7 linked regions of the Homo sapiens genome follow. The protein of the gene in region 7 interacts with the protein of the main gene of each other region in a pairwise test. Each region holds a gene or a part of one and is shown on either strand. Other genes may lie near its edges.

Region 1 (4,027 bases), on a different chromosome or scaffold from region 7:
GGATGGTCATAAAAGCCCCTTTAATCTGTAATATAGCTGAACTGTTGCACTGATGGTACAGTGGAATTTAACCACTCTTTGTAATTGTTTCTATGGGGAAATGGTTCAAGCAAGGCTTCCAGGACTCATCTCTCCCATTTCAGCGTTGCAGACCCCTGCAGTGGAAGTCTCTCCTCCCTTGCCCCAGTGTCTATACTCCTGAATGGGCTCTGGGAGGCAGCGGTGAGGGAAAGGGTGCTGGTGTCCAGGGCTCCCTGAGATAGAGTTTAGAAAGGGATGAGAGGAGGACTGTCAGTTGGTACAGGGGAACAAGAAGGGAAGGGCCCAATGCACCAGTAGTGGCAATGAAGAAAGAACAGAGTTTGAGGGAGGCTTCTTGTGGCCGTGCCTCCCAAGGCACTAGGAGTAGAGCATTTCAGTGCAGCAACCCCAGTGCCAGTGCCAGAGCGGTAGGGAACTCGGAATGACATTGCTTATCCAGTGCTGTATCTGTATACTGACGTAACAAGGGACTGCTGGCATTCCTGAGTGACTGGATGATTTACGTGATTAGAGCCTTAGGCTAAAGAGGTTCCTGCAGTGATTTTACTCCTTTTAAGAGCCAGCCAGTTTTCTCAAAGAAAATATTTTTTGTCTTACAGTTATAAATGTGCTTCTTAGTTTCTGTCAGTTGCATGATTCTTACTAAGGATGGTTGCATTGGCATGGATGGATAAGGTCACCATCACTGCAGGAAGAATGCACATCACTCCCTGCTAGAATGGATGCCTTTCCTCTTACTGCTTTTTCTCGTGATCACATATCAGAACTAAGTGCAAGTGCAAGCTTATTTTGTATAAACTACAGAAAGAACCAAGAAGCTTTAATAACCTGTTTAGACAGTTTCTTTGAAATTTGGGGGAAACTAAATATTGCAGTTTTTATCAGTTAAGATCCAATGTTAAAGTTTATACACATGAAAATTAGTGATAAAAATGTACATAGGCCCTTTTTAAATTAAGCTTTATAAAACCGGTGAGCAGAGCAAGTTCACATTTATCTTTAGGGTAGAAAATGATCTTCCAGCTACCCTATCTGTAGTATCTGATTTTAAAAAAATTGACTCTCCCTATCAATCTCATAGGTGTCTGATTTTTTTAAATTAAAATCTCCTTGAGGCCTGGCTTTATAAGCTTCTCTTAACCCTTGAGGTCCTTTAGAATTTATTTGCTTTATGTTTTTCTTGTTCTTCCTCACAGCTAGCCAGGCTTGGTTAGGAAAAAAAGCCTTTTGTCTTCATTGGTTTCTGTCTTCATTTTTTGTGGCTGTTCTTTAACGGTTCTTGGCAGGTAGGGGGTGGGGTGGGGGGCAAAGTGGAGCGATCTCATCCTTCAGCTATTCGACTGGAGGGCCAGTGTTTCCTCTCTGTTTACACATCTGTTAAAGACCCTGTGTGGTCGTCGGCACATACTGAGCCCCCACTTCCTTCAGAGAGCCACAGTGCTGTGTAGGGAGTGGATATTGTTTAGGGTTGGACGATGAAAAACTACTTAGCCCCTGTCTTCTACATGACCCCCTGTGGAGAAGACTGGGTCTAAAGGAGACCAAAACTAGAATTTTCATCAGTGCATTGAAGTGCCTACCTGGTAATTCCAGATCTGCAACATATTAATTTCCAGCATACAAAGGCTGCAAAGGAATGTTTGCCTTTTTTTTACTCACAACCTAGCTTTGGTTTCTGTTTTTTCCATGGACATTGGTGGTCCTGGGCAGGGCAGTCTGTTACCCTGTATTTTAATCTGTTTTGTTTGAATAACAGTCATGGTAATATTTTCCATGTGCCCAAAAGGTGGACGAAAATTACATCATAAAGGGCTGTGAAATACTTTCAGTAAGAATTTGAGCCAGTACAACATTTTCGCCTTTCTGATTTCTTCTTACACTTTCCTTTCAGGCAAATGATGCTTATCTTCAGATGGCCATTGGAAATGCGCCTTGGCCCATCGGTGTCACTATGGTTGGTATCCATGCCAGAACTGGCAGAGAAAAGATTTTTTCCAAGCATGTTGCACATGTTTTAAATGACGAAACTCAGCGGAAATATATTCAGGTAAGCAGTTTGGAGAGCCGGGAATTGCCCTGGAAGTGAATATTCTCTAATTCCCAAAACTCTAAGTCTGGAAAGCAGGCAGAGAATTACAGCAAATAGAACATAGCGTGATAGGATGGAAGTCCCCTCTGGATAAGCACTGACACTGAAGCCACCTTCACTGAATAAAGTAAAAACCTTTCAACTTTCATATATGTTGGAAGACAAGGGTGAAGTATTGTGCTTTAATTACCTTAGCACTGAAATAAAATGATTGCAGTTTGCTTTTTTTTTTTAAGACGTGTATTAGGAAGTAAAAGTTGAGCTCATCAGAGAAATGTGGGAGTTTAGTGAAGAGCAACAAACTTAGAGTATTTTACAATAAATCCTGCTTTGTTGCTTTCAAGGTAAATCTAACATCTACTGGGTTCAAGATGTATGGAGAGTAAAGACTTGGCTTTAATGTACGTAGCACGTAACAACACTTCTTTAGTCATGTGAATAGGTCTAAAGTGCCGATGGTTTGTTTTCTTCAAGTTATACATGCTTCACATAAACTTGTTGGTACTGTTTTTGGGCTAAACTTTTCTCCCTAGTGGGAAGAAAATCGACTATAATGTAGTGTTTGCCAGATTGTCATAAATCCCAGATTGTGTCTGTAAAATGACTTGCTGGATGATAGTTCTAAAACTTGACAGTGATACTCCGGAAGTTTACTTAAAATTTGAAGTTCACTTAAAATGCATAAAGTGCTTTCAGATTTTGTGCCAGAGAACAGTCATTACCATATTCATGAAATATCTTTTTGTTTTTATTTCACTTCCAAGTGCTGAATGTTAATTCGTGTCATGCTTTATGCCTTAGTCACATATAATAGCTTTTTAAAATATGATTTCAATCGGACTCCCTCATGTGAACTGTATACAGAGTTCAAATATACTTCTGGAAATTCAACCACATTTCCATTTTTTAATAACCACCAGTGAGTGTATTAAAGGCAGAAGCTTTTAGCTGAAAAAAAAAAAAGTTGCTTAGCTTTAACAATAGAAAACAGGTTCCAAAGATTAAATTTGCTAATTGTGTTCATCTATATTGTGGCCAAAGGTATAGTGTATAAAAGTTCATATGATTAAATCAATCGTCTGAAAGACATTTCTTATAAACAGTAATGTGATTTTCACCTCCCCGAGGAGTGATTTTTTTTTAAGTATACCTAGCATTTATTCAAGAATTCTGGTTTATTTTGGAAGCTATGTAATGACCTGTCCTTACTCCATTGTTCTTCCTTTTTAACTGTTCTCTTCCCATTAAAAAAAATTCTTCTTTTGCCCCCTAGGTGATTAGAGAAAATTGATGAGCATACTGTATTTGAAATTTAGCTAGGTGTTTGAGGCAGACCCAGTGGTATTCTTGTGGATAGGGCAAATCAGGCTGGACTCATAGCTCATTGACAGAGGGAAGCCATGGAGCATTAAATAATGGACTCGTGTCTCTTAGGGTAGATGCTAGAGATGTATGTCAGGGGTCTTAGGGACCTCAGTGCTGTCCTGTCGAACCTTTTAATGACTGACTTGGATGGCTATACCGAAGGATGGGTTTATCAGGTTTGCAGACAGCAAGAAACTAGAAGGGATGGAGTGTATGTTAAGGTGGAAAAGAAACTGCTATTCTAGAAGTTCTTGACAGACGAGAGAGAAGGGCAGAGTCTAAAAATACAATATTTAGGAAGGAAGGATTACCATAAGAAAATTGGACCCATATACCCTTTTGCTTAAGCTTATAATTTGGGCAGTGGATATAAAAAAGAATTAGAGGCTGAGCATGGTGGCTCACACCTGTAATCCCAACACTTCGAGTGGCTGTGGCGGGAAGATTGCCTGAGGCCAGGAGTTTAAGACTAGCCTGGGCAACATAGCGAGACCCCATTTCTACAAAAAATAGAAACTAGCCAGGCATGGT
Region 2 (4,027 bases), on a different chromosome or scaffold from region 7:
CTTTACCTCCCAGCTTGCTTGAAAGCCTGTTGTACTTCAGAGTATTCTCAGCGATTCCCTTCAAAAGGGGCTGGAGATTTCTCTGGCCAGCTTGCTTCTCTGAAATTGGTGGCAGTTTGGAGAGGCAGCAACTCTGCATCATTTACATCAGAAGCAAGAGAAGCTCACTTGGTGACTGTTGAATTCACATAGCTATAAATCTTTACCAGCTACAGCCACTGGAAGGGGCAGAGGAAGAGTAGGAAGGGGAAGTAGTACTACTGTTGTAGTTTTCCCAATGAAGCAAAATATGTAGCAGTATTTTGTTGTTTGAGATAGTATCCAGAGTTTTTTTTTTATATTTAAGAGAATTAAGGAGCGTGGACACAAGGGTGAATTTCAAGTGAAAGTTTAATAAGCAAAAGAAGAACGCTTTCTGCAGCAGACAGTGGGGCCCAAAGGGGTTCCCCACCATGAGGCCGGGGTTCAGGGTTTTTATGGACCGGGATGGGAAGGAATGTGCATAGTTTGCAGGCTGTTTTGAGGAAAGTGTGATTTAGCTTGGTCTGGGACCAATCAGGAGCTGAAGTGATGATTTATTGGGGCTACCTAGCTTGGCCCAGGACCTAGTAGAAGCTGAAGTGAAAGCTTGGCCAAAGACCTTGGCCCTGGGACCAATTAGGAGCTGAAGCAATGATTTATTTAGGCCGAGCTTACGGTTTAAAGCATGTTTAGAAAAGAAAAAAAAAAAAGTGCCCACCAGAACCTACTGGAGCACCCCATGTACATGCCCACATAAGGAGAAGAGACTATTTCCTGGAAGCCTGCTGGTTATACAAAGGACAAAGACATTTCTATGCAGAGTCTTGTTCTCTTATTACCGTGGCTGCAGGCATGTCTTAGGCACAAAGAACAAAGGTTGGGCCTTGTTTCTTTATCTGAGTGGGCCAGAGGTTTGTGCAAGTTTTCTTATCTGTGCCTGCAGCCTGATTTTTCAGGCTGTTTCTCCAATTACAGGAGTTTTACCAAGGGCCCACCCTAACTGCCACCTTTTCTCTCTTATTCTCCCCCTCAGGAGTGGAGACCCTAACTGCTGTTAGGGAGATTAAGCGTTGATTTTTTTTTTTTAGCTACTTTTTGCTGGAGATGGGTGTTGTGTGGGGAACAGCAACTAGGGTTTCTTTTGGGGCTGGCTTAAGGGTCCTTGGAAGAAAGGCATGTTTATGCATGGTTCCTTTTGCATTACCATTTGTAGCTTGATAGCCGTTAGATGAGAAGAAACAATGTGGGTTATTAGAGTACATGTATTAAAATGAAACAAGGATGGAGGTAAAGAAGCTTAAAAATTCCAAGGCTAAGTGATGGCTAGTTATGCGTGTTAAGATTTGGGTTCATGGGGCTTGGCTTCGGTTAGCTTTCTTGGTTTTACTTTTTAAACAAAGAAACTTGTGGGTTATGCGAACTTTATTTACTTTTATTACCTGGCAGGACTTGTGGGATAATTGCCCAGAACTAGAGTATTGTTTTCGATTTCTACATTACCCATTCCCTTTTGTTTCCTTTGAGTGGTAGTTGGAGATTGCTGGTTGATTTACAGAAATAGGGTTAGTTTAAAATGTAGGTAGGCAAGAACTTGAAAACAACTACTGAGACTAGAAATTAATGACAGCTGTATGATAACTTTTGAAACATAATTTTTTCTCCAGTCCTCATTTTTGTTAAAAACAAATTATGATAAGATTGTGTTGTTTGCAAAATAGACTTTAGTCTCATACTTGGCCTGATTATTTACAGAAACTGCAGCAAGAATAATTACCTTTACATAGGCCTTTTAGATGGGCTTTGATGGAACTCTGTTTTACAAGGAATCTTAGATAGGACTTTTTAAAGCTGAGCCCAGCCATGGGTTTGCACCCTTAAATACCTGTGAGTTGGGTAAACTCCTTTTTTTCTGAGGTTTCAAGAGCATGGTGTTCTGGGCCTGTTAGAAAATGACTTTTTTACTCACCACAGATTAAGAACCCTGTACAGGGACTGTGTAGACAAAGTATAAGGCCAATTTTTCCAAGGGGCTTTTTTTGGCTTTTCAAGTTAAGCTTGACTTCTTAAAGGGAAACACATCCTTTTAGTTAAACCCTTGGCAAAACACCAGTTTTTAAATTGTCCTGTTGCAAAAGAAAATGCATTCTTATTGCACTGATGCAAACAATATATTGTTAGAAGTTAAGAATGCTTACATGTAGTGTCTGAATTTTAGAGGAACCAGGCAGAGAGAAACAAACATGTTTTACATTTTGCTTTCAGGAGTATACCTCACTTAATTGTTAAAGGCTGTATCTAGTTTAAAATAAGTTTTCTTGACTGAAAAACAAGGATTAGCAATATTTTAAGCAAAAGTTAAAAAGATTATATTAGCTTTTTATGAGTTCAGTCCATTCAGTTAACTCTTGTTTTGCTTGATATTTATAAACATTTCAGCTTTTTATGAATCCTGTATGCTTTTCCATTATTAGATACCTGCATTTGAAAGCACCTGTTAAAGTTTTACAGCTGAGTTTAAAACATTTTTTGAAGAGGATTAAAACAAGACAATTGTCTTAAATGACAAAATGATCAGGGTGTTTACAGTTAGAAACACAATTGTCAAAGAAATTTGGTTATTTTTGTGGTTTACAACAGTTTAAGATAATTTCAATTATAATTGATAGCATATATTTAAACATTAGAACTTTAGACATCCCATATGGTTTTAGAACATATGTTAATAATATTTACTGAAGGCTGGGCACAGTGGCTCATGCCTGTAATTCCAGCACTTTGGGAAGCTGAGGTAGGCGGATTACAAGGTCAGGAGTTTGAGACCAGCCTGGCCAATATGGTGAAACCCTGTCTCTACTAAAAATACAAAAATTAGCTGAGCATGGTGGTGGGCACCTGTAATTCCAGCTACTCGGGAGGCTGAGGCAGGAGAATCACTTGAATCCGGGAGGCAGAGGTTGCAGTGAGCCAAGATCACGCCACTGCACTCCAGCCTGTGCGACAGAGTGAGACTCCATCTCAAAAAATAATAATAATAATAATAATATTTACTGAAATATAACCTGAAGAAGATTAAACATTACTTTGGCAATTCCATGTATTTAAACATCTTTAATAATTCTGTTTACCTGTTTTCTGGATGCTCTAGGGGCCCGCTGTAGCATCCGAAAGCTAGGTGTTAGGAAAGTCTATTTATTTTGGGAAGCCCATTAAATATGTTATTGGTTTAAAACACTTGATATTATGAAATGGAATTTTAGATTACCATAAGTTATTTATTTTTCTAAAATGATGACTTAAAAATTTGAAAAATCAAAAGCCTTTTATTAGCCTTTAGTATTACACAAAAATCCTGTTCAAGAGAGAAAGCCAAATTTTACCCTTGCATTAGTTTACTATTAATGTTAACCCCAATTTTTAATGAAACCTTGTGGACAATTATATTTAATTTTCACTGGTTTGATCATGAAGTGAGATTTTTACAAACCTTTTATAACCCTTTACAAATTTTACTGAAAAGAAAACCTTGTTGTGCTTTTATTTTAATGCTTAACTTAAAGAAAAATCTATGTAATACTCCTTTGAATTTAGTTAACATGTATATACAGAGTTTTCATGGTAAGATTAATTCATACAGTTTTTCCACAGTTTGCTTAAATCTTCTGCTTTATTTTATTTAAGAAAATTCTTTATCCCTAGGCAAAATGTACATTTCCATGCCTTCTTACAATTTTTTAGTAAAAACACATTTTACTGTTTTCACACGCCTTGCACGTAAATCCATTTTCAGTAGTTGATATGGTTTGTCTGTGTCCCCACCCAAATTTCAACTTGACTTGTATCTCCCAGAATTTCCACATGTTGTGGAAGTGACCCAGGGAGAGGTAACTGAATCATGGGGGCTGGTCTTTCCTGTGCTATTCTCATGATAGTGAATGAGTCTCACGAGATCTGATGGGTTTATCAGGGGTTTCCACTTTTGCTTCTTTCTCATTTTCTCTTGCTGCCA
Region 3 (4,027 bases), on a different chromosome or scaffold from region 7:
GACAGTGTAGTATGATCAAATTACAGAATGCTTGATCTTTTGTACTCCTAACCAGTGTAACCTGTGGCCACTCTTTTTCAACATATCCTTAGGTGTTTGTGTTACTAAGGTACTCATCACCAAACACTTTACCAAGTCAAATGTGCCATTTATTAGGTTTTTGAAATTTTTAGTATTCCCTGCACTTCTTAAATCTCTTTTTCTTTGCCGCTTACCATTTCCATGACCTTGGGCACATTACTGAAACTTTCCAAGCCTTAGTTTCTTCATTCATAAAATAGAGATAGTAAGACTCATTTCACAGATTTGTGAGGATTGCATGAGGTATCTGCAAAGGTGCTTTCTAAACTATAATTTATCGTACAGTTGTAAGGAGGTATGGTGAAGGTGTTCGTCAGAGGCCAGTTTGGTTGTGACTTTGATAGAGTTGTGTTTAAATAATCTTGGTTAGGGTGGGGCATGGTGGCTCACGCCTGTAATCCCAACGCTTTGAGAGGCCAAGGTGGGCAGATCACCTGAGGTTAGGAGTTCAAGACCATCTTGGCCAACATTGGTGAAACCCTGTCTCTACTAAAAATACAAAAATTAGCTGGGCGTAGTGGCATGCGCCTGTAATCCCAGCTACTCAAGATGCTGAGGCAAGAGAATCGCTTGAACCCGGAGGCGGAGATTGCAGTGAGCCAAGATTGCACCACTGCACTTCAGCCTGGAAGACAGAGCGAGAATCCATCTTAATAATAATAATAATAAATAATCTTGGTTAGACTTCAAGCCACACTGTGGCATTCTTTTACATTGAGTTAAGTGTAAACTACCTGGGACTGTGTTTAAATGGAGTATATAAACCGAAGGCATCCCCAGCTGGAGTTACCTGGATTAACTTTTTGCTGCAACTACTGGGGTCAACAGAAAGGGGTGACATTTCTCTTACAAGGAGCCCATGCCTAGATGTGGCTTCTTTCCTGTCTACTCAGAATAGGCTATGTGTGTCAGACCTAAGTCTTTTCCTACAAGTTGAGATTTTTTTTTTTCCTACAGGGTGTGAGAGTTGGGCTTTTGGCTGTGTATAGTTGGGGAGAATTATAGCTGTGGTGGTATGTGGCTTGGTTTACTTGGCGACTTCTCTTCCTAGGCTGCAGATCCTTCTAGGCCCTGACCTTCTTCTTTTTAGCTGCTTTTTTCAAGGTAAAGTAAGTAGTTAGTAGCACATGCTGGCCCAGGAGTCAGGTAGACCTGGATTTGAGCCCAGACCTCACTGCCTGCTCATGATCTCAGTAGGCTTCAGTTCCCTCATCTGTAAATGGGACTAACAAAAATACCCACCTCATAGGATTATTAATGGGCATTAGATAAGAAAATGGGTATATATTAAAATTTAGCATAGGGTCTGGTGAGTATTCAATATTTATGAATATTATGAATATGTATGAATATGGCTAGTGAGTAGCCAATATTTATATGTATTTATTTGTGAATTTATGTATCTCCTCTGGAGAGAGCATAACTAGTAAACATGGAAAAGCTTCAAAGCCTTAAATTTACCCATCATTGTTTATTGCTCCTGGTCTGTGGATTCTCTGCCTTCTCTCAGTGGTAACCCAAAGTACCTTTCACTTCTTGCTTTGCTGTTTCATTCTTTTCTTTTTTTCTTTTTTTTTTTTTTTGGAGATGGAGTCTTGCTCTATCACCCAGGCTGGAGTGCAGTGGCACAATTATGGCTCACTGTAACCTCTGCCTTCCGGGTTCAAGTGATTCTCCTGCCTCAGCCTCCTGAGTAGCTGGGATTACAGGTGTGCACCACCACACCTGGCTAATTTTTGTATTTTTAGTAGAGATGAGGTTTCACTATGTTGGTCAGGCTGGTCTTGAACTCCTGACCTCAGGTGATCTGCCTGTCTCAGCCTCCCAAAGTTCTGGGATTACAGGCATGAGCTACCATGCCCAGCCTTCTCTTTCATTCTTGTGGGTGGTTCTCACCAACCTTGTTTTGTCCTCAGACTCTTCCCCTTTTCTAGGTGAAACCAACCCCTTCCTCCACGAAAGCCTCTTTCCTCAGGACAGAGCTGACTTTTAAATTGGTTGGTTGAATTTGGGGTTTTGTGGGCTAGGTATCCTTAAAATCATTTCTAGCAGCCTCAAAATGGTCTGCCTTGAATCTCATGTCTTTATGTCATGGGGAATGACAGCCTTTTCTCCCTTCTTTCTTCTTCATTGTGTTGGAAAGTGTCCTCCCAGTTTCTATTGGCAAGTCTTCATTTGAGTAAATTCCAATCTTAATCTACTTCAAATATATATTGAATCATTATCTGCTTCAAAAATATAATGAAAACTGGTCAGGCATGGTGGCTCATACTTGTAATCCCAGCACTTTGGGAGGCCGAGGAGGGCAGATCACCTGAGGTCAAGAATTTGAGACCAGCCTGATTAGCTGGGCATGGTGGTGCGTGCCTGTAGTCCCAGCTACTCAGGAGGCTGAGGCAAGAGAATCGCCTGAACCGAGGAGGTGGAGGTTGCAGTGAGCCTAGATCGCACCACTGCACTCCAGCCTGGGTGACAGAGCAAGGCTCCTTTTCAAAACAAACAAAAATATATATATATATAAAACGAAAACCTTCAAATGCATAAAAAGCGTATGAAGAAAAATACAACACACACCCTGGTACCCACCCCTCAGCTGGTTAACGGCCTTCATTTTTCTCAGAAGTCAGCACCTGTTAGAACCTGACAGGCAGCCTGGCCCGTCTCTCCCTGTAGTGTGTTCATCCGGTCCTGGTGTGCGTGTGTGTCACCCTGTGTTAGGCCACCAGCTTCAAGTCAGCTCTTTGACCTGAGTTAAAATTCAACTTCTTGATTTGATGATTGATTAAAGAATTCTCAGAACATCCAGTATTTATGCAATCTTAATGTACACGTGGCCTCTAAGGAGGAAAAACAGTAATAACCACATACTCCTGGGTGTTATATTAGATGACAGATCTTTCTTACACAGCTGCATGTTTGTTCTCGACAGCGAATCCCCTGAGGTGGTACTGCAGGTGGTAGATCAGGTCCCCTTTTACAAAGGAGAAGCAGCCATGGTGGATGAGTCCAGAACGTGCAGCCTCAGTTTTATTTTCTTTGATTTGGGTACTTGTCTCCTATAGTTCTTTTTTTTTTTTTTTTTGAGACGGAGTGTCACTCACACTGTCATCCAGGCTGGAGTCAGTGGTGTGATCTTGGCTCACTGCAACTTCCACCTCCCAGGTTTAAGCAATTCTCCTCCCTCAGCCTCCCGAGTAGCTGGGATTATAGGCATGCGCCACCATGCCTGGCTAATTTTTGTATTTTTTTAGTAGAGATGGGGTTTCACCATGTTGGCCAGGCTGATCTCAAACTCCTGACCTCAAGTGATCCATCTGCCTCCACCTCCCAAAGTGCTGGGATTACGGGCGTGAGCCACTGTGCCTGGCCACTCAAATAGTCTTGTTTTAAGAACAAATATTATCATTTCTATAAATAGAAAACAACATTTGTTATAAATAAGAAGAACTTCTGGGCGTGGTGGCTCATGCCTGTAATCCCAGCAATTTGGGAGGCTCAGGTGAGAGGATCACTTGAGGCCAGGAGTTTGAGACTAGCGAGAGCAACATAATGAGACCCTTATCTCTCAAAAAAAAAAAAGCTAGACATGGTGGTGTGCGCCTATAGTCCCAGCTACTCAGGAAGCTGAGGTGGAAGGATTGCTTGAGCCTAGGAGTTCAAGACTGCAGTAAGCCAAGATTTCTCTACTGCACTCCATCACTCCACCCTGGGTGACAGAGCAAGGCCCTGACTCTTAAAAGAAAAGAACCATATAAATACTCAGTGAAAAACCAAACAATCTTATTAAATCCAGAGGCAGATCTTGTTGCTAGCAAATATATTGATTCTGAGGCTGCCGTCACTTTGGCACCTAGTTAGAAAATGGTCTTAAAGACAGAGTAGCACCAAACTTCAACTTTCTTCTCAAGGCCAGCAGAAGAACTTTTAACAGAATAAAAAATGGAAC
Region 4 (3,984 bases), on a different chromosome or scaffold from region 7:
CCTACCTAGGCTTCCACTTGATCCACCTAGGCTTCCACTTGATCCACCTAGGCCTCCACCTGCCCCACCTTGGCCTCTACCTGTCCCACCTCGGCCTCCACCTGCCCCACCTTGGCTTCCACCAGTGTCACCCAGGCCTCTACCTGTCCCACTTAGGCCTCTACCTGCCCTACCTGGGCCTCTACCCACCCAGCTCAGGTGCTGCTGTCCCCATCTTGGCCAAATCTGCTGGCTTCAACCAATGCAGCCCAGTGGTGTTGGGCACTAGCTCTGAGCCAGGTGTGTGTATTACTACCTCATCTGGCCCTCACAGCACACCTCAGGAGGCTGCTGTTTCCCATTTTTTAGATGGGAAAATGAGACCCATTGAGGTTAAATTACTTGCTGAAGGTACCCCTGAAGCTGATCCTATGAATTTACCTGCATTCTTATCATCATTTTCCACGACCCTGAGACCCAGAGCTAGGAAATGGTCCCCAGTTCTAGTGGAGGGGCATCTAGCCCCGCACCCCCTCAGGCCTTGCCCCACCACCTCACCAGGCCCATGCCCACTATGCACTCACCCACCCCGTCATCCTCTCTTTACCCGCTTCGGCTAACTGTCCTCTCTTCTCTGCAAGCCCTCAGCACCCTGGCACCTGATGGATTCTGTTGTTAACTCTGCCTACTGGTTCAGGCCTCAGTCTCCTTAACTCCGCCATGGGGATCGTGAAACCTACCTCCAGTGTGGCAGTGAGGATTCCACCAAAAAACATTCTTTCCCTTCCCTCTCCTCTTTTTCTTTCCCCCTCCTCCATAACTCAGGCAGGGCATCCAGTGCGGGTGAGCTACCAGCTTCTTGAGGAGGGTACTGTGTCCACTACAGTTTCTCCTCTTATCAATCCAGGCCCAGTTACCAGAGGTAGATCTCGCTTTGCTTTTTAAGCACTCCTGTACTTGAGCTGTTCTCTGTTGACATCACAACCCCCTCTGTTTACTCTGCAAACAGAGAAGCCCTTTGCAACCTCAGTCTTTGATGACCTCCAGAGGACAGGAGGAGTCTAGCTGGACAGGTTGGGGCCAGTCAGGGAGGTGTCCCCAAAATGTGTTCAACTGCAATCAGGACAGAGTCAGTTTCTAGGACCTGGGAACACACCTGCCTTCAGATGTCAGTGATGAGTTACATCCCGAAGCCAGGTAGAAAGGATGTGGGGATTGGCTACTGTTCCTGGTGATTCACTTCTGTAAATAAGAGTTGAATTGATTCACACTTGTGAGTGAAAGTAGTTCTTTAAAAATTACTTAAAATAGTGAAATACAAAGAGGCACAAAGAATAACAACACCTGTGTAGCTGCCTTCCAGCTTAAGATAGAAAATATTCTGACAACTAAATTAAATGTATGATCCTTGCTTGGATTCTTTCTGGGGTAAAATAAAGCTATCAAGGTTGCTCTTGGGACCATTGGGAGAAATTTGATGATGCAACATATCTAGATAATAATATTGTATTGGCTGGGTGCAGTGCCTCACACCTGTAATCCCAGCACTTTGGGAGGCCGAGGTGAGCGGATCACCTGAGGCCAGGAGTTCGAGAACAGCCTGGCCAACATGGTGAAACCCTGTCTCTACTAAAAATACAAAATTAGCCGGGTGTGGTGGTGTACACCTGTAATCCCAGCTACTCGGGAGGCTGAGGAGGGAGAATCGCTTGAACCCAGGAGGTGGAGGTTGCAGTGAGCCCAGATCACCCCACTGTACTCCAGCCCAGGCAACAAAAGCAAAACTCCATCTCAAAAAAATAAAAATAATAATATTGTATCAATAAATTTCCTGAGCGTGACTGTGACACCGTGGATAGGTAGAAGGATGCCCTTGTTCTTAGGAGACCACCAGCTACATATTTAAGGGTGAGGTGTCATGATGACTGTAATTTATCCTCAAATGGTTCAGAAAAAAATAAAATACATACATATAGAGAGAGACAGAGAGCAAATGTGGCACAAATGTTAATAATTAGTGAATCTAGTGGGTGGTATCATTGTATTATTTGTTCAATTTGTCTGTCGGTAGGAAATTTTTCAAAATTAAACGTTGGTAGAGGAAAAAATATTTACTAATTATATTTAAACATTGAAATCGCTCAATAAAAAAAAAATGCTCCTGAGGTAGCTGAAGCCCCCGTGTGGGGCTGTGCCCTGACCGTGGGTTTCTCTTGCCTGTGCAGATCTTCGTGCCTGCTGAGCCAGTGAGTCATCCTTTCGGTGGTTCGGGTGCCAGTTTCTGTCTCCCCTGCCTGCCAGACGGGAATCCTTGTGAGGGTGGGGCAGGGCCAGGCCTTCTTCTCCAGGTCCCTGCCAGGCCACACTCTGTGCTGGGCACACAGAGGAGCTCCCTGAAGGCTGGTGCCGCCTGATGAACTACACTCCCTCTGCCCCTTTCTCCTGCCCTCCATCTCCACGCCCACATCTGGGCTCCCCATAAAGCCAAGTCTTCCTCGCAGTCACACCTTGCGGCACCCAGTGTTCCTCTCTGAGTCTTCCCAGGCCCCTTTTACCCAGCCTCCCGGCATGATCCATGTCAGCCTTTGGGGGGTGTCTTCGTGGTGAGCTGAGAGTGGGCCCCGCTCCACAGAGTACCCATGTAAAAACAACCAGCCTATCATTTTTAGGTGAAAACACACTTGACTCCATGATGGCGCAGAATACAAAGTCTGCCTGAATCTTAAAGCTAAACTGTGGGACTTGAAAGACACACCCTGTGTGTGGAGGGCCTGTCTGCCAGGTAACAGTGTGGCTCTCAGGGTCAGGAGAGGACAAAAGCTGGGCCCTGCTTGCCTGGTGGGGTCTTTGGGAGAGTCAGGTGAGATGGCGGAGAGGACAGCATTTGGAAAAGTGAATCAGATGCCAGTGGCCCGTCTGGGGCAAGCCCCTTGGGTTCACAGCAGCCCTCACTCGGAGGGAACCTGGAGGGGAGAGAAGTTACGGCCCTCGCGGTGGGGGCCGGGTCTTGAACCCTCAGCCTAAGAGCCCCGAGCCCGAGCTCCCCCATGTGTCGCAGCCTCCAGGCAGTTGGGCCTCACCAGCATGGGGGAGCATCCCCGCTCTGCCTCTATTCCTCCCTCGAAGCTTTCTTTTCCTCCCCCAGTCCCTGGTTGCTCTCATGCCCCCACCTGCCCACCAAGGCAGGAGCCCAGCCCTCCGGTGCCTGGTCTCAGCCCCATGCCCCCTTATGTGTCCTCCTCAGGTGGTGTGTGCCAGGTGCTCCGACTACCGGGCCGAACTGAAATACGACGACAACAGGCCCAACCGAGTCTGCCTCCACTGCTACGCATTCCTCACTGGAAATGTGCTGCCTGAGGCCAAGGAGGACAAGAGGCGGGGCATCCTGGAGGTGAGGGCCACTGTCCCCGCGCTCACCATCCGTCCTCTGTTCAGGGAATGTGTGCCCGGCAACCATGCTGGGCTGACACTGTCCAGTGCTGAGGAACAAGCCAGCCATGGTCACACCCTCCCCCCTCTCCCTCTTCCTCTCTCTGCCCACAGACCCCAGGCCTCTCGCCACAGCCCAGGCAGTGTGGAGCCTGTCACCAAATGGAGGCACCCTTTGGCTGCAGGCTGTCGTCCACATTCTTCTGCACTTCCTCTATGTCCCCATCCGATAGTACGGCCCCTCTGGACAGCTCATGTTCACGTCCCCATGTCCTGCCCCGACAGTCCCAGGGTGCCAAGAGCTGGTGTCACCGCTTCCATTTTACAGATGGGAACACTGACGCTCCAGGTCAGACAGATTGGAGACTCCATTCTAACTGGAAGGGACTCCAGGGGCCAGTCGGTCTTATCCCATGGAGACCCAGGGCTGGAGGAGTGACTTGCCCAAGATCACACAGCAAGTTAGGAGCCAGCTCTCTGATCTCAGTCACAGATGTTCTTTCTGTTGCCCTGGGGGCCTCACTGAGCCACACTTGCCCCCACAGGTGCTCCCCTGTGGGGGTACAACTGTGCTCA
Region 5 (4,027 bases), on a different chromosome or scaffold from region 7:
ATAGGAGTGACAGACATAAGTGCATAGCTAAGCTCATTCCAGCTCTAGATATTCGGAAGAAAAGCAGTGGCACGGTAACTCCTTCTGTAATTGTCTTTGGTATTACTGCAATAGCAAACACTTTTAGATAGATATTAAATAGGCAGAAATACTTTATAAAGCAACCGTTGAGCTTCATTCTGTATCAAATGTTTAATGTAATGGAATATAAATGTAATTACAACCCTTTGTGCTTGATCCTGAACTTCGCCTGACCTCACAGTTTTAACATGAAGCATTCTTTTATTCATGCTTGGGCAGGTAGTGCTCCCAGCTCAACAATTATAAGTCTTTTCCTTTGATTTCCTTGATTGGTATCAGTCTTGTCTCTGGGTTTGAATAAAGAGCAATTCAAAACACTCTGTAAACGAGGCCTGCCTTTCTCATTGTGTGTGCATGTGTGTGTGGGGCACCTTATGGATGAAACTAGGATAGGGACCCCATGGAACTTCTCATGCTTTGTAAGTTGTAAATAAGTTCTCTCCTGTTTTTATCTCCAGTAACCTGACTTATTGCAAGGCTCAGTAAAGATTTCTTCCTGATACACCAGAGCTGTGCCATGTCTGTTGGAAAGCATTTCTAAAAACCCTGTTAAGGCCAGGCGCCGTGGCTTATGCCTGTAATCCCAGCACTTTGGGAGGCTGAGGCGGGCAGATATCTTGCTACGAGATCAGCCTGGTCAACATGGGGAAACCCCGTTTCTACTGAAAATACAAAAATTAGCTGGGTGGTGATGGTGCATGCCTGTAATCCCAGCTACTACTCAGGAGGCTGAGGCACAAGAATCTCTTGAACCTGAGAGGTGGAGTTTCAGTGAGCTGAGATTGCGCCACTGCACTCCAGCCTGGGCAACAGAATAAGACTGTCTCAAAAACAAACAAACAAACAAAAAACAACAAACCAAGAAAAGCCCCTGTTAATTGGGGTCTGCTATCTGCTAATGTGGCATTTATCTGGGTCACAGGCTCAAGCCTTTAAAGAGTGGTTAGGATATAAATGATAAGTGAAATTGTAACTTTAGCAACTTCCCTTATCATTATAAAGTGGGAGGCAACAGAGACTTCTCTGTGTTTTGAATGTGTGTTTAATGATTCTTCTGTGATTTAAGTACAAAACGCAAACCAATCTTTGCATCACATTCTGAAGGTTAACCCTGTCTTATCCAGCAAGTTACAGGCTTAGTCGTTCAATAAAATAGGTAAATGTAAGTTCCGTTAGGTTTTAAAAATGTCATAACTTTTTTTTGTCTTCTGAGTGGGGATTTATGTTATTACTGATTATTTCACTAACTGGTAATAGGGATGGGATTGACTATTAGAATACTGTTAACTTCTCACTCCACTAAACAAATGATAGAGAAAAATGTGAATGTTGTTACATGAATAATTTAATATTGCTTTTGAATTAAAGTTTTAAGGACCATAAAGTCAGGATCTGTCGATGTATGTTTTCTAAATTGTTTTTGATATTGAGTAGAATAAAAATATTAGTAAATGTTTGGGAAAAAAACTCAAACTTTTTTCCCTCTGTTCTCATACCACAACAGTCATCAACACAGATGATTTCTGTAACCAAACCTATGGGGGTTTCTCCTCACCACCAAGCGAGCAATCATTTCTGCAGTGGACACCAACTGGGTGTCCTTTAGTTCATTTCCTACACTGTTTGACTGGATATAGTGTCAGATCCCAGAGATAGAGGGCTTAGTCCTCGAAGCTGCCCCTTTCCCACCCTGTTCAGACACCAGTCACGAGTTTGGGCCTCCGGAACTTAAAACTTGACTGGCTTCAAGTTGGGGTTCTCATGGCTCCCCCTCTTTGGGTTTGGTTAATTTGCTAGAGCAGCTCACAGAACTCAGGAAAATACTTATTTTACTAGTTTATTATAAAGGATATTGCAGAGGATACAGATGAAGAGATGCATAGGGCAAGGTATTGGGGAAGGGATGCCAAGCTTCCATGAGTTCAGTGTTCAGCTAGCTATTTGGAAACTCTCTGAACCCAATCCTCTTGGGTTTTTATGGAATCTTCATTCCTTCAGGGTATATGGGGTGGGACCCTCTCTGGAATGAGAGTCTTATGACCCACATCACAAAGGTGGGGGTTAGACACTTGCCTTCAGGTAGGGTGAAAGGAAGAGAGCAGGAGAAGGTTGGAGAGAGTCTGTTTCCTGAGGCCTAAAGCACCCAACACTATAACGAGACTGCAACAAGGCTAGGGGAGTTATTAGCCAAGGAACTGTGGACAGATACACACACACACACACACACACACACACACACACACATACACACACACACACACACACACACACACAAAATAACACAGCAAATCATCCACGGGATCTAAAGAAGCATGATACAGTAAATGCCTATATACCTACCATCTAACTTATTAAAAAGAACATTACCAGGAAAACAAGTGAAAACAGAAGGCTCCTTTTTCTTTGTCCCTCATCCAAGAGGTATTCCATATCCTGAATTTTGTGTTTATCATTCATTTGCATTTCCATGTTTGATTTCTTAAAAAATGTATTTTTAATGTTTTTGAAATTTTTTTTACCAACAAAATGATTACATGTATTCTTTTACAACATGCGTTTTTTTGTTTGTCATTATGTTCCTGAGATTTATCCATGTTTCATTGTAGCTCTGGTTCATTTTCATTGTTTTCACTGCTATGTGATATTCCAATAAATTAATATATCATAACTTTTACATTCTTCTGTCAATGGAAATTTGGGTTGTTACGGTTTTTCTATTATAAATAGTCCTCCTCTAGACATTCTTGTGCCTGATTCTTGGTGCCTGTTTGTAAAAATTTCTCTTGGGTATACCCCTAAGGAGTAAATTTTTTGGGTCATAGGATATGTGTTTAGCTTTACTTTGATGATACCAGATTGTTTTCCAAAGTGGTTGTACTTCAAAATAAATAATTGGGACATAATTAAAGTAAAAAGCTTCTGCACAGCAAAAATAATAATAATAATCACAGTAAACAGACAACCTGTAGGGAGAAAATATTTGCAAACTATGCATCTGACAAAGGACTAATACCCAGAATCTACAAGGAACTCAAACAAATCAGCAAGAAAAAAAAATCAAATAATCTCATCAAAAAGTGGGCAAATGACCTAAATAGAATTTTCTCAAAAGAAGATATGGCCAACAAACATATGAAAAAATGCTCAATGTCACTAATCATCAGGGAAATGCAAATTAAAACCACAATGAGATACCACCTTACTCCAGCCAGAATGGCCATTACTAAAAAGTCAAAGAACAATAGATGTTGGCATGGATGTGATGAAAAGGGAATACTTAAACACTGCTGGTGGGAATGTAATTTAGTACAACCACTGTAGAAACCACTGGGTATCTATCCAAAGGAAGAGAAGTCATTATATAAAAAGACACCTGTATATGTATGTTTATCGCAGCACATTTCACAATTGCAAAGATAGGGAACCAACCTAAGTGTCAGCTGATGAGTGGATAAAGCAAATTTGATATATATACATCATGAAATACTCCCCAGCCATTAAAAAAAGAATGAAATAATATCTTTTGCAGCAACGTGGAAGGAACCAGAGGCTGTTATTCTAAGTGAAGTAACTCTGGAATGGAAAACCAAGTACCAGGTCGTCTCGCTTACAAGTAGGAGCTAAGCTGTGGGTACTCAAAGACATTCGGAGTGGTATAATGGACTTTGGAGACTCAGAAAGGGGGAGGGCTGGCTGAGGGTGAGGGATAAGAAACTACATATTTAGTACAATGTACATACTAGGATGACTGCACTAAAATCTCAGACTTTAGCATTAAACAAAAAACAAAAATGGTGGTACTTATAGAGAGTTTATGTTGTTTCATATGCTAGCTAGGACTTGTTGTTAACAGACTTTTTATTTTTGCCAGTCTGGAGTTGTGTATTACTCATGAACAGCAGTGTTCACTGGGCTATTTGCATCAGTACACTTGCAAAAATTTAAA
Region 6 (4,027 bases), on a different chromosome or scaffold from region 7:
AATCAGAAAATTTTAATGCTGCTCACATTCATCCTCCATATATCAGCTCCTTGACCAAAATATGCATTTCCCTGGAGGAGAATGAAAGTCAGGCAGGCATATTGATTTCCAATCATGTATCAGAAGCCTATGGCTCTTGTTTCAGTCAAGAACACAGAGTATCATCTGTGCTCCAGACATTCACTTGCCAGAGTCAGGATGTTTGATTAAAAGTTGGAGAACAAATGAACAAATGTAGTTTGACAATTGATATCAGACAGTATAAGGGACAAGCTATTCTGCTATGTTTTTAAAACTTTATCATTATCGCTGGGCACGGTGGCTCACGCCTGTAATCCCAGCACTTTGGGAGGCCGAGGCGGGCGGATCACGAGGTCAGGTGATCGAGACCATCCTGGCTAACACGGTGAAACCCCGTCTCTACTAAAAAATACAAAAAAATTAGCCAGGTGTGGTGGCGGGCGCCTGTAGTCCCAGCTACTCGGGAGGCTGAGGCAGGGGAATGGCGTGAACCTGGGAGGCAGAGCTTGCAGTGAACCGAGATCAAGTCATTGCACTCCAGCCTGGGAGACAGAGCGAGAGAGCGAGACTCTGTCTCAAAAAAAAAAAAAACAAAAAACTTTATCATTATCAAGTAAGACCAGAAAACAACATTCTTAGACCACAGTGGCTTATCTCCCTTTACAAATGCCTCAACTATCAGTCAATATAAAAAATACCCACAAAATTGTTATATTGTCCATGATGTTACTCGATATCACTATTTAGAGGTCTCACCCATAAAATTCTTAGGATTTTTTGCCTGGAAGTTTCTAAATAACTTTATGAAAATAAAAACCACATAATCGATTGCATATGCCTTTATCCCTCTGGCTGTCAGGAAGCCAAGGGATACAGTTAAAAAAATGTAACACTAGGCTGGGGCGGTGGCTCACGCCTGTAATCCCAGCACTTTAGGAGGCCGAGGTGGGCAGATCACCTGAGGTCAGGAGATCGAGACCATCCTGGCTAACATGGTGAAACCCCGTCTCTACTAAAAATACAAAAAAAAAAAAAAAATTAGCCATTAGCTGGGCGTGGTGGTGGGCGCTTATAGTCCCAGCTACTCGGGAGGCTGAGGCAGGAGAATGGCGTGAACCCGAGAGACAGAGCTTGCAGTGAACCGAGATCGCGCCACTGCACTCCAGCCTGGGAGACAGAGCTAGACTCCATCTCAAAAAAATAAATAAATAAATACATAAATAAAATAAAAAGTAACACTAAACTTTAGAAATTGTTTTATGCCAAATAGTTGCCACAATTACTGTAGTCCATGGTTCTATAAGGCTTCTGATACCTACCTTAACAAACGGTTTGTACTAGTGACTATCAAACATACTTCAAATCCTTTCTTGAAAGCAGGTGAGATACTATTTAAAAATTAAATTATCACTGCTAATTAAAACATCAAAGGGCATCTGATAAATATATAGCTTTAATAGAGTTGATTATTTTATTTTTTAAATTGTATTTATTTTTTTTGAGACGGAATCTCACTCTGTCACCCAGGCTGGAGTGCAATGGTGTGATCTCTGCTCACTGCAACCTCTGCCTCCCAGGTTCAAGTGATTCTCCTGCCTCAGCCACCCAAGTAGCTGGGACTACAGGTGTGTGCCACCACGCCTGGCTAATTTTTGTATTTTTAGTAGAGATGGGGTTTTGCCACATTGGCCAGGCTGGTCTCAAACTCCTGACCTCAGGTGATCCGCCTGCCTTGGCCTCCCAAAGTGCTGGAATTACAGGTGTGAGCCACCGCACCCAGCCAAGGTGATTATTTTTAAAATATACATATTCTAACATCACATAAGGCTTGAATAATAATTTTTTATAAATCACTTATCAAACAAAAAATAAAAATAAATAAAAATCACTTATCAGCTTACCACCCAATACAGTCGCTAGTACCATTTTTGTTATTATATCACTTAATAATCAATCAACAGCTCAGCTATTTCTCAAAGCCAAACTTTTTTTTTTTTTTTTTTTTGAGATGGAGTCTCGCTCTGTTGCCCAGGCTGGAGTGCAGTGGCAGGATCTCAGCTCACTGCAAGCTCCGCCTCCTGGGTTCACACCATTCTCCTGTCTCAGCCTCCCGAGTAGCTGGGACTACAGGCGTCTGCCACCATGCCCAGCTAATTTTTTGTATTTTTAGTAGAGACAGGGTTTCACCGTGTTAGCCAGGATGGTCTCGATCTCCTGACCTCGTGATCCACCCGCCTCGGCCTCCCAAAGTGCTGGGATTACAGACGTGAGCCACCGCACCCGGCTCAAACTTTTTAAAATTAAAAGCTACCTTCAGCATAGAAGGTGTTTGTTATAAGGCATGTATCTAATAACTTGAAAAGGTTATTTAACTGTTTAAAAAATGTGGGGCTTTTGAAAAGATCTTACAAAAATGAAATAAAAGTAGAGAAACTTAGAAAGCAAATACATAAATAAAATAAGGTGGTGCAAGTAAACTAGGTGATACTGCCTTGTTTTAATGTGTATAATTCTAATTTCACTTATTAAAACCAATCTTTCCCTATAGTAGTACTATAACATACAGACTTTGTTTGACAAAGTCTTAAAAAGTCCGTGAATTGCACTCTGATTATACAGCTTGGTTCAACAAGTCCTCTAAAAATCTTAACCTTATTCTTATGGCTTCTTCTAAGTTATGGCAGTGATCGAGAAGAATATTTGTGCCTAAAACCTGTTTGCTCCTAACATAATCTATTAAGTGGAAAAACCTAATTCAGCAATTTAGAGAGTAATACTCCTTGTTCTCTCCCTCTAGTTAATGGAGTGTTCTCCAAATGGCTTTGGGCCAATCATTCTCTCAGCTGTTTTGGTGAGGCCAGAAGACTGGCTATGTCTATCCAATGAGTGAAAAAACTAGCTTCTCTTTTCCCTTTCCTTTAAGGTCAGGCATAAGTGTATCCAATTGAAATGGAATGTCAGGAAACACCAAAAGTGAATCTAAAAGGTGGATAGTAGTCTTAAGAAAATCTGAAGAATTTAGATTATGGAGATATTGGCATGTGCAAAATACATGGGATTAACTAACCACAACCAGAAGATACAGTTCTCAGGAAAACCCTAGGCAACCAAAGTTCAAGTCTTCCTCCTCTCAGCTAGTACAGAATAACCAAATAAACCAAAGTTATTTACAAATATTGAAGAGAATAGAGTCAAAATTTTAGAATATCTAAGTTTTTAAAGCCAGGTGAGAGATCTTGTCAGCAAAAATTTAAAGGAACAATAATACCCAGAGCTGGGCAAGTTACTCTGCATCTTACTGTAGTTCTCTTCTCTGTAAAATAGGGATAGTAAGAGTTATTCCTCATAGCAGTTTTGAGGGGATTAAACACAATGTATACTAAATGCTTAGCATGGAAACTAGCACATCTTAGGCATTCACTATACATTAAATATTATAGCCGGGCACGGTAGCTCACACCTATAATCCCAGCACTTTGGGAGGCCAAGGTGTGGGGGATCACCTGAGGTCAGGAGTTTGAAACCAGCCTGGCCAACATGGTGAAACCCTGTCTCTACTAAAAATACAAAATATTAGCTGGGCGTGGTGGCACGTGCCTGTAATCCCAGCTACTCGGGAGGCTGAGGCAGGAGAACTGCTTGAACCTGGGTGGCGGAGGTTGCAGTGAGCTGAGATCGCACCACTGCACTCCTGGGCAGTAAGAGTGAAACTCCGTCTCAAAAAATAAATACATAAATAAATATTATTAATATTGTATTACTGCTGATGAGACAGATTTGTTCAACTTTTCTGGGGAATAATTTGGCAACAGGTATCAAAAGCCTGAAAAATGGTATCTACCCTTTAACTTAATAATTACCTTCCTAGGGATTTATTCTAAGGAAATAATCAGAAATGGTCAAAGATTTATGTTCATGGATTTTCATATAAAAGCATTAGATCAAAAACTGGAAATGTCCAATAAGAATTTGGTTATATAAAATTATGGCATAACCATAAGGTAAG
Region 7 (4,027 bases):
GCAGGATAGATGCTTGTGAATTACTGGCGGGGCAGGGGCTCCACTTTAGAGGGCCTGAGTGCGGTGCCAGGACACCTGGTACAAGAGGAAGTCTTTGAGAGGCTGATGTTTAAGCTGAGGAATAGGGGAGGGGCTGGAGTGAGTGTCCCACCCAGAGGAAAGAGCAAGTACAAGGTCGTGTGGAGGAAAGGGGGCCTGCCAAGGAGGTGGCTGAGTGTAGTGAGCAGGACAGTCCCAGGTGAGGTGAGCTCTTAGAGCCGTGGGAGGAGCAGAGCTGAAGGCAGGAGCTCAGTCTGAGGGCAAGGGGCTTCTTCCTTGGGGGCCTGTGGGCACACCCCCTTTGCCCAGTACTGTTCTTGCCAAATCACCCCTTGTTCAAAGCAGGGAAGACTGGGTCTGTAGGGGAGGCCTCCCTAAGAGGCATCTACTGGCATTTTGGTCCTCTCAAGCTGAGGGTGGTCTAGCCTGTGCCAGCCTTAGGGAGCTGGCCCCTTTGCACTGGGGCTGAGCCACATGTCCTTGTAGAGGGTGCAGTTTGGGATGTACGCGCTCTACAGCAAGAATAAGCCTCGCTCCGATGCCCTGATGTCAAGCTATGGGCACACCTTCTTCAAGGTAAGTGAACCTGAGATTAGGAGGAGTAGGGGATGCGGGGAGTGCCCCCAAACCACTCAGTGGCCTCCCATCCGCCCACAGGACAAGCAGCAAGCACTGGGGGACCACCTGGACCTGGCCTCCTACCTGCTAAAGCCCATCCAGCGCATGGGCAAGTACGCACTGCTGCTGCAGGAGCTGGCACGGGCCTGCGGGGGCCCCACGCAGGAGCTCAGTGCGCTGCGGGAGGCCCAGAGCCTTGTGCACTTCCAGCTGCGGCACGGAAACGACCTGCTGGCCATGGACGCCATCCAGGGCTGTGATGTGAGTCATCCCAGGGCAAGGGCAGTGGGTGTGAAGAAGAAGGCAGAAGAGGCTGGCCACCCACCAGCCCCCAACTCTGCAGGTTAACCTCAAGGAACAGGGGCAGCTGGTGCGACAGGATGAGTTTGTGGTGCGCACTGGGCGCCACAAGTCCGTGCGCCGCATCTTCCTTTTTGAGGAGCTGCTGCTCTTCAGCAAGCCTCGCCATGGGCCCACAGGGGTTGACACATTTGCCTACAAGCGCTCCTTCAAGGTAGGCCTGCCCACCCCAGGCCCCACCACTTGTTTTCCCGCCCCATGCCTTACCAAGCCCCTCTCTCCCGCTGGCCACAGATGGCAGACCTTGGTCTCACTGAGTGCTGTGGGAACAGCAACCTGCGCTTCGAGATCTGGTTCCGCCGCCGCAAGGCCAGGGACACCTTTGTGCTGCAGGCCTCCAGCCTGGCTATCAAGCAGGCCTGGACAGCTGACATCTCCCACCTGCTTTGGAGGCAGGCCGTCCACAACAAGGGTGGGTCCATGCCCCTCCTTCACGCCACACTCCCCTCACTGGAGAGCTTACATTGACCCACAGGAGCCCAGAGACCTGGGAAAAGCTCGGGAAGTGGGGAGAAGGCCCAGCGACAGCCACCAGTGCAGGAGAAAGGATTTCAAAGCCAGGCAGCCTTGCTGTCACTGCCTCTGACTTTGGACACAACGTGAACTTCTCTGAATATAAGGGGCATCATGGCTCTCTCTCTCTTTATTTTTGGAGACAGGGTCTCGCTCTGTCGCCCAGGATGGCGTGCAGTGGCATGATCTTTGCTCATTGTAGCCTCTGCCTCCTGAGCTCAAGCATTCTTCCCACCTAAGCCTCCCAAGTAGCTGAGACTACAGGCATGTGCCACCATGCCTAATTTGTAAAATTTTTTCATAGAGGTCTCATTATATTGCCCAGACTGGTCTTGAACTCCTGGGCTCAAACAATCCTCCTACCTCGGCCTCCCAAAGTGTTGGGATTACAGGCGTGAGCCACTGCGCCCAGCCAGGGGCCTCATCTTTAAAAGGGGAATATGGCACCTGCCCCACAGGATTGTTGGGAGGAGAGCACCTGGCACTAGAAAGGCTCAGCTCACAGGACAGTTAATGTGCTGGATGGAGGTGTACAGGAAAGACTTATCTGGGGGGTGGTAGAGGCCCAAGGACAGGCTTATGTCCAGAAGCATCCCACTTATGTCCACTCTCCACCCAGAGGTGCGCATGGCTGAGATGGTGTCCATGGGTGTGGGGAACAAGGCCTTCCGAGACATTGCTCCCAGCGAGGAAGCCATCAACGACCGCACCGTCAACTATGTCCTGAAGTGCCGAGGTAGCAGGCAGGCTACAGGGTGTGGGGGTGGGAGTAGGAAAGCTGTGCGGGAAGCACTGTGGCCCTCCATTAGTGCTGGCCCGCACTTTCCTTGGGATCTGGGGCCAGGCTAGGCTCTGGCCTGTCCCAACCTGACCCTCTCTCTTATGCAGAAGTTCGCTCTCGGGCGTCCATTGCCGTAGCCCCGTTTGACCATGACAGCCTCTACCTGGGGGCCTCGAACTCCCTTCCTGGAGACCCTGCCTCTTGCTCTGTTCTGGGGTCCCTCAACCTGCACCTGTACAGAGACCCAGCTCTTCTGGGTCTCCGCTGTCCCCTGTATCCCAGCTTCCCAGAGGAAGCAGCACTGGAGGCTGAGGCAGAGCTGGGCGGCCAGCCCTCTTTGAGTATGTCTGGGCCTAGCCAGAGGCAGGAGGGCATGGCTTGGGGTCTGGGGCTTCCCGTGCTGACAGTTCACCCAGTCTCCCTCCCTAGCTGCTGAGGACTCAGAGATCTCGTCCCAATGCCCATCAGCCAGTGGCTCCAGTGGCTCTGACAGCAGCTGTGTGTCAGGGCAGGCCCTGGGTAGGGGCCTGGAGGACTTACCCTGTGTGAGTGCCATTTGCCCTATACCCACCAGCCCTTCCCCAGCCCAAGCTGAGCCTGTGACTGTGACCAGCCCCTCCCCAGCCCAGGCTAGGCCTTTACTTTGGGTAGAGCTTGGGGTGGGTGGGCCAGAGCCATTCCCCAGACACCTCCTGGGTCCAGAGTCAGGGAAGCAGGCATTCATGCCTGGCCTGGCCCTGCAGGTCTGAGCCCGGGACTGGACGAGCAGTAGATCCAGCAGCCTGCAGCTCCAAGGAACATTGCCTCTCTGGATCTGCTGTGACCAGGGTGTGGCTGACACCTGGGCTACCTCCAACCTACATGTGCAACGCTGTTGACTACCCTTTCTGATGTGTGTGGCCATTGGACTAACTGGCACGGGGCCTCTCTAGGGAAGTCTGGTTGTAGAGCCTGAATAGGCTCCTGGCCCCATGACCCCTTCTCCTGTCCCCAGCTCCCATCCCAGTTGTGGGTTAAGAATAGGCTAGAGCAGACATTGGGTGTTTCCATGCTGTAGGCTGGTGGGGGACCATGTGCCTCTAGGCAGTGACTAGGGTGCCCCCACCCCTCAGGAAGAACACAGGTGGGCTCCTAGCAGCTGATCCCCAATGCCTGGCCTTAAAGCCGAGCTCAGTTACCATAGGGACAGGTCCACCTCTACTGGGCCCTCATGCTTGCCTTTCCTGGCCCCCAGGCCCAGCCCCTTTTTACTGGGGCAGTTTCGTTATTTTGACTTGATGCCTTTTGAATAACTTTCAATAGAATTGTCTAAAATTATCTTACTGGTTGTTAGGCCTTTGGTGTCTCAGAGAAGGAGTCTAGGTCTTTGATGTGTGATTTAATCTTTTATTTGTTTATAATAAAAAATAGACTGATATGTACCCTCTGATGGGCACATGCATTCTGGGCTATCTCCAATTAAAATGAGACTTGGCGGGTGGGGCATGAGGGGCTGCATCTCTGGGCACCCTAGTCCTCTTGTAGGTACTTTCCCAGGATGGAGTAAGAGACAGACCTAGACAGGCCCCTCTGGATGAGCAGGTCCATGCATCGGCCATATTTCCTGGCGAAGGGCAGTGTAAGCTGGAAGGAAAGGCCAGTCTTATCCCTGATTTCCTGGCCAGTTGTCTACTCTAGCTCCATGTGGGTGGGGTTCTCCCATTGGGGCAGGGACAG

What was found.
Region 1: the proteins of PLEKHG4 (region 7) and PRPF18 interact in binary tests that used the Homo sapiens proteins (3 or more experiments, as listed by UniProt).
Region 2: the proteins of PLEKHG4 (region 7) and TENT5D interact in binary tests that used the Homo sapiens proteins (3 or more experiments, as listed by UniProt).
Region 3: the proteins of PLEKHG4 (region 7) and TBC1D22B interact in binary tests that used the Homo sapiens proteins (3 or more experiments, as listed by UniProt).
Region 4: the proteins of PLEKHG4 (region 7) and FGD2 interact in binary tests that used the Homo sapiens proteins (3 or more experiments, as listed by UniProt).
Region 5: the proteins of PLEKHG4 (region 7) and METAP1 interact in binary tests that used the Homo sapiens proteins (3 or more experiments, as listed by UniProt).
Region 6: the proteins of PLEKHG4 (region 7) and PRPS1 interact in binary tests that used the Homo sapiens proteins (3 or more experiments, as listed by UniProt).

The regions. Positions count from the first base shown.
Region 1 is NC_000010.11:13,614,465-13,618,491, forward strand, and holds part of PRPF18 (pre-mRNA-splicing factor 18), read left to right. Parts: intron 1-1,933; coding exon 1,934-2,089; intron 2,090-2,475; coding exon of another isoform or gene 2,476-2,517; exon of another isoform or gene 2,518-2,532; intron 2,533-4,027.
Region 2 is NC_000023.11:80,422,989-80,427,015, forward strand, and holds part of TENT5D (terminal nucleotidyltransferase 5D), read left to right. Parts: intron 1-4,027. UniProt on the Homo sapiens protein: Catalyzes the transfer of one adenosine molecule from an ATP to an mRNA poly(A) tail bearing a 3'-OH terminal group.
Region 3 is NC_000006.12:37,274,318-37,278,344, forward strand, and holds part of TBC1D22B (TBC1 domain family member 22B), read left to right. Parts: intron 1-4,027. UniProt on the Homo sapiens protein: May act as a GTPase-activating protein for Rab family protein(s).
Region 4 is NC_000006.12:37,022,569-37,026,552, forward strand, and holds part of FGD2 (FYVE, RhoGEF and PH domain-containing protein 2), read left to right. Parts: intron 1-3,223; coding exon 3,224-3,370; intron 3,371-3,522; coding exon of another isoform or gene 3,523-3,757; intron 3,758-3,984. UniProt on the Homo sapiens protein: Activates CDC42, a member of the Ras-like family of Rho- and Rac proteins, by exchanging bound GDP for free GTP. Activates JNK1 via CDC42 but not RAC1.
Region 5 is NC_000004.12:99,002,159-99,006,185, forward strand, and holds part of METAP1 (methionine aminopeptidase 1), read left to right. Parts: intron 1-4,027. UniProt on the Homo sapiens protein: Cotranslationally removes the N-terminal methionine from nascent proteins. The N-terminal methionine is often cleaved when the second residue in the primary sequence is small and uncharged (Met-Ala-, Cys, Gly, Pro, Ser, Thr, or Val).
Region 6 is NC_000023.11:107,631,421-107,635,447, reverse strand, and holds part of PRPS1 (ribose-phosphate pyrophosphokinase 1), read right to left. Parts: intron 1-4,027. UniProt on the Homo sapiens protein: Catalyzes the synthesis of phosphoribosylpyrophosphate (PRPP) that is essential for nucleotide synthesis.
Region 7 is NC_000016.10:67,285,749-67,289,775, forward strand, and holds the end of PLEKHG4 (puratrophin-1), read left to right. Parts: intron 1-525; coding exon 526-615; intron 616-696; coding exon 697-918; intron 919-1,000; coding exon 1,001-1,171; intron 1,172-1,251; coding exon 1,252-1,429; intron 1,430-2,149; coding exon 2,150-2,266; intron 2,267-2,418; coding exon 2,419-2,652; intron 2,653-2,727; coding exon of another isoform or gene 2,728-2,740; coding exon 2,741-2,856; intron 2,857-3,054; coding exon 3,055-3,060; 3' UTR 3,061-3,732; downstream 3,733-4,027. Other genes in the region: BTB/POZ domain-containing protein KCTD19, read right to left, coding at 3,821-3,934. UniProt on the Homo sapiens protein: Possible role in intracellular signaling and cytoskeleton dynamics at the Golgi.